Linked DNA regions of Homo sapiens: region 2 is linked to region 1. The links come from fine-mapping of genetic effects on gene expression. Tissue or cell type: lung. Region 1 holds a variant in brackets; the other region holds the start of a gene. All regions are shown on one strand. Distances are between the middles of the regions. Region 1 overlaps SILC1 (sciatic injury induced lincRNA upregulator of SOX11). Region 2 holds the start of SILC1 (sciatic injury induced lincRNA upregulator of SOX11).

Region 1 (2,817 bases):
TGTATGTATGTATGTATGTATGTATGTATTTATTTAGAGACTCAGTCACATTCTGTCACCCAGGCTGGATGGAGTGCAATGGTGCAATCTCGGCTCACTACAACCTCTGCCTCCTGGGTTCAAGCGATTCTCCTGCCTCAGCCTCCGGAGTAGCTGAGATTACAGGTGCCCACCATCATGCTTGGCTAATTTTTGTATTTTTCATAGAGACAGGGTTTCATCATGTTGGTCAGGCTGGTCTCAAACTCCTGACCTCAAGTGATCCTCCCGCCTTGGCCTCCCAAAGTGCACGGATTACAGGCATGAACAAGCCACCTCACCCGGCCTCCTTTTGTGTTTATTAACGTGCAGCCTTTTTTGGGGGTTATAGCTTTTGTTGCACTGCACAGATTTCGTATTTTTTACTTCTAGCTCCTACTGTTCTGACACTGTATACTATATACTTCTCTATTTAGATTTTTGCTTCTGTAGGCTGTACACTATGATATGTCCTTCTCTTCCTTTACAGCCTGATGAACTCCTATGCATTCTTCAAAACCCATTTTAAATTATATCTTATCTCAGTACTGTTTCCTAACCATCTCCCTCAGGCAATATAAGTGATTTTTCGATCTATGCTTCTGCAGTTATCCGTACTAGAGTCCTTATTTTAGAGTATGAGTAGATTAGTTATTCTGTATTTGTGAAAGCACTTTTTGAAAAACAAAAATAAAAATGGACCAAAATAATAAACACTGAATTTTTTTTTCTGTAATAGGGTTACATTAAAGGAGATTTTTTTGTAAAACACATACTATGATAAATGTATAATTTGTTATTATGGACGAATATATTCTAACAAGATTATATATTACAATAGCTAGCAAAAATTATCTCTACATAATATGGACTTTTGACAATAAAAAAGGAACAGAAAGAGAGCGAATTAACATACAATAAACACTAAGTAAAAATAACTTTAAAATGAAAGATATTGTCATAAATATATAATGCTTAAATTGTGTTTATGAAAATGACATTTTAAAGCAAACAAATTATTAATTGCCTAATTCATTTGCTAATAATACAGATGTGGAAAAATTTCTTTCATTTTTATGTTAACGTTAGCTGAATTATTGCAGTGTATCCAAAAGCATCTTCAAGTTACGAGTGATGATAACATCTCTTCACATGAGCTCATTTTCTTTTTTAATTATGAAAATATTGTCTGCTTGTCCTGATTTTGGTTTTGCTGCTGAAATCAATATTGGCTTTGCATGTTCCAGGTTTAATCAGTTTCTGATTTTATGATGGGGAATTTCACAACCTTCATATCATCTCTTTGAGTTTCTTCCTTTGAAATATTTACAAAGAATTGAAGTCTATAATGGATACCCACACACTTGGAAAAGCCAGCAACAGGGAATGTTAACTTCGTCTTTAATTTGCATACAGTAGCACATCACGTGGCACAAAACAGCCCACTGTA[C/T]GTTGTGGCATGTGCGAATGTTTGTTCTGCACATAGAAAGTGTGCTTAAACTCCAGTGATATAACTGTGCAAACTGGAAGGTAAATAATGAACGCTGTAAAGCTCGGGGGAAGAGGAGGCTTCCTGGCAGCCGAGAGTGGGAATACAGCAGGTTGGTAAGGAATGCAGAATGGCAGGGCCAGGAAGGAAAGCCTGGGAGAGAAGCCTGGGGCAGGAATGTCGGGGAGGTGGCTCCGACTAAAGCCCACCCACCTCAGCGCTGTATTTCCGAGTCCACCAGAGTGCTCTTGTTTCCAGCACAGAACCTGGGCCCTTGGCAGCCCCCGTTGCAGCCAGCCCTGTCCCCCAAGCTCATGGCTGGGAAACCAGTCCTGTGAAGGCTGATTGCGTTTTGCTCTAGGCCTGGATAAAGGTGCCTTTTCGCTGACTCAGTAACTCAGGTGGAGCCCTTCTTCAGAAGAGTCACCTCCTCCCCTCGCTGGAGCCCCTCAGTGCATGGTGCATTTAGCTGCTTGTTTACCGGTCATTAAAGCGGTGGTTGGGGGCGGTGAGAGGAGTTGGGGAACTTGGGTCTGAAGGGTGAGGAAAGATAACATCAGCCTCCAGCTTATGACCAATTTCGAAAGCGAGGCACAGGAGTTCTGCAATTGCAAGATAGTGTGTCTTCTCTGCAGATGAGGGGCAGTGGCTCTAGTTATTCCAGCAGCATAAATTCCATCCTCCATGGCCACTCAAATACCACAGGCAGCTGAGACTTGTGTAACCTCTCCTGAGGCTTCCTCCAGAGCTGGTGCAGCGCTCTTGGCAGGAAAAGAGGAGCCAGGAGGAGTGGTTTCCAATCCTAGTTCCACCCTTAAGGAGTTGCGGGACCCTCTGCCTCATCTGTAAAGTGACACAGGCCCCTCCCTCACTGTGCTGATGAGAGATAAGCATGCTAGCAGGCAATCTGCCTGAGTGTTGGATTATTTGAATCTCAATTTCTCCCTCTTGTCTACTTTTCCTCCTGAATGAAGTAAAAAATGAAGGAAAAACAGATTGGGTGTTAAATTCTCATATGTTTAAAAAATTGTAAGGCTTCTCTTTAATTTTCCGCTTTCCCTAAACAGGCCACCACTCACCACCCCAACACCAGGCCCATTCAGTTCCGCTGTGACCTGTGGCCTGATCTCCAAGCAGCCCCTCCCAGCTGATTTTTCCAAGCCAGTATAAGGCACCAGGGTGTTCTGCCTGAACCTTGACGATAACCTCCTCATCAGTCTCACTGCTGCCATTCCTGGCTCCATAAAATCTGCACTTTCAGAGAAGCCAGTGTGATCTTCCCAAGTAGAAACGAGAGCATGGCACTACCC
Region 2 (2,817 bases), 6.3 kb after region 1:
ATCAGGAAGCTAAGACCATTCTATTTGCCTTCTGGATGTATCTGTTTGGTATTGAAACAAGAACATCTGCCTGACTGCGAGCACCGTGTTGTCTCTTAACACCAGACTCTGCCCAGTGGATCAGTCATCCTGGAGATTGACTCCAACTGGGGAATGGCTCAGAGTCATCAGAACAATTTGGTCATCATGACAGGGCTTCAGCCATACTGTTCCAAATACGCCCTCATCCCAGAGCCTGACATCACTCCCGGTCTCCTCTCCAACCCTTAGACCTGTCACTGGGGTCTGACATACACAAAGCTAAGCCCACCAGGGCTAGCACCTGCTGAAGTGCCCACCATGAGCCTAAGTCTGGCTCACATCTGCACTGATGTCATCACACAACACAAAACATGGCTGTATTCATTTTACAGGGCTCTGAATGGGTAGCTGACTTCACTGAGACTATAACCTAGATCTCATGGCCTTTCCAAGTTTACACCTGCATCTTGTCATCACCTTTTCTGTCCCAAAGCACAGAGTCCATGGGTAATTTTTAGGTGTGTCAAACACCAGGCCTTGTGCCAAGGACTCAGCAAACAAAGGTAAATAGGGCACAATTTTACCCCTAAGGAGTTTGAACCTGTCATGGCAAATACATAACCATCTTTTTCAATAAAGAACAGAAACACCAAGAGGTTATGTGATTTGCCCAACACCACAGGGCTTCCTGGTGCCGCTAGGACAGGTTCTGAACTAGAACTCAGCACTCCAGACCCCGTGGAATAGTCCATTGCCAGCATTCCATGATGAGTTCACAGACTATGGAGAGGAATCACCTCTGGGGACCTACTGAGCAGACTCGGGGCAGTTGCTGACACATCCGAGAGTCAGACCTAGTTTTCTCCTTGGCTGGATCCTCTCTAAAGCCATCTCCCTGATTTTAGAGTGGGCTTTATGACCCAGGTGCATGATCAGCCTAGCTCTTGCTTTTCAAAAAGGAATTAGGGAAATGCTGAAAGACACTCGGCAAATCAATCTGTCTGATAGCAGCGTCCAGCCTGGCAGACGGACTTGTTCTCATGCACACGGCAGAGACCTGTACCAGACGACCAGCATCTGAACCCCCGAGCCTTGTCTCACCTGAGCAGGGCTCCCTTTGTCACGGTGTCAGCGGCTCCGAGCCGTGAAGGTTCTGTGCTTCCAACGAGGCTCGTCTGGGAGGCATCAGCACAGCTTTTAGCTTCCTTTAGTGAGGCAGTCGTCAAAACACTGCCGGGACTGCAGAATGAAATCTGGATTTGAGAACCCTCTGCAGGGCTGCCAGGGGTGCTTGGCACTGCCTGGCGCCACCAGCCGGTCCAGCTCCAGCCAGACTGCTGACCTGGCACTGGCGCTGCGTGATATAACTCGCTCTCACGGGGAAGGTTTAACTGTCTCTTCCCCAAGCTCGGAGTCCTCCAGTCTCTGTAGGATGCATCTCTCTGTGATGCCCCTCTTCCCACACTCCGGGCTCCTCTCTGCCAGGGTTCCAGCCGTTCAGGGACTCACAGCCCAACCCCTGTAAACATGCCAGCCAAGAATTCATCATTTTTAGCAAAGTAATTATTAATCCCAAGGCTTCTGTTGAAGTCCTTCTCTTTTATTAGTGCTGCCAATTAAAATATATTTAAGCATAAAGATATTTATAAAGAGTCTAGTGTTTTTCCGTAAATACCTATCGATTGAAATCATTTTAAAAAAAAAAAATCTAGCAACTATTCCCTTATTCCTGTATAACACATTGTTCTCATTTAATTTATATGACTTTAAGACTTCATATGGAAAGGATATAGTTGACTGGGGAGACATGGATACAAAAAAAAGTAACCATGTAGGAAATTAATAATGCACATTGGAATATTAATCATGTCGTTGGAAGAATGCAAGAGACACATAAGAGCATAGAACTGAGACTAAGGAGACCTGGAGACCTGGGTTCCAGTTCCAGAAATAACACGAAATTAACTTTAAAGATTTGTGCAAGTTACTTGGTGCCTGGACGTGAGTAGCTCCCCGGCTTTCAAGCAGTTAGGTTGGTTGATTGCCAAAGTCCTTCCCAGCATCACCATTCTAATATATATTTTTAAGCCAAAACACATATACCTGTGGTTTTTAGAGGAAGTATAATACAGCCATTAGAACCACTGAAGACTCACAGGCTTCTAATCCTCACTGCCCCTTCTTAGCTCTGTGACCCGGACAAATTTTCTACAGAGTAGACACCTCAGTATCCCCGATTACAAGATGGGAGAACATTTGCTGTTACATGAGCTGATGCGTCGCTGTTAAGAATTAAATGAGCTAATTTATGCAAAACCAGCTGGAACATTGCTTCATCTATGGTTTTGCACAATAAATGTTAACTGTTATTATTACTCTATTCAATGGTCCTAATTCTACCACAACTATCTTACTAACTTACTAGTTGGCCAGTACTGGATATGCAGTACTTACTATATTTGTGTAGGAGTCATAGTCTTCATGTAACAGGGTCCTGCTAATGCTTTCAAAGATAAGGCCACATCTCTGTGTTAGAAGACAGATTTTTGGCTTAGGGAAAAAAAAATTTATTGAACACTTACTGTATGCCAGAGTACTCTCTAAAACATTTTTTTCTATATCATCTACATGTTTCAGGGCACTATGTAAAGTGTATTCCCTTTTAATAACAATTTAAAATACTCTCAATTATAAAACAAGGTGATTCCAATGCATAAAATGTACATACTTTGCCCAAAGCTATAGATGTGGTTAGTGTTAAATCCAGGAACCAGGAAGTCTAACTCAAAGTAATTC

What was found. PIP is the estimated chance that this variant, and not a neighbour inherited with it, causes the effect. A credible set is the group of variants that fine-mapping cannot tell apart.
Region 2: SILC1 starts here. The variant in region 1 is the best candidate, but not a certain one, in a credible set for the expression of SILC1 in lung (TOPMed, PIP 0.63).

The regions. Positions count from the first base shown.
Region 1 is chr2:5,937,479-5,940,295 of GRCh38, reverse strand. All of the region lies in intron 1 of SILC1 (sciatic injury induced lincRNA upregulator of SOX11), which reads right to left. Among named protein-coding and RNA genes, the nearest start is that of SILC1, 6.2 kb to the right of the region's middle. The variant C/T (reference allele first, on the strand shown) is at 1,469.
Region 2 is chr2:5,931,227-5,934,043 of GRCh38, reverse strand. It overlaps SILC1 (sciatic injury induced lincRNA upregulator of SOX11), which reads right to left and starts at 1,357. Exons shown (of 2, transcript NR_026832.1): 1 at 1,123-1,357.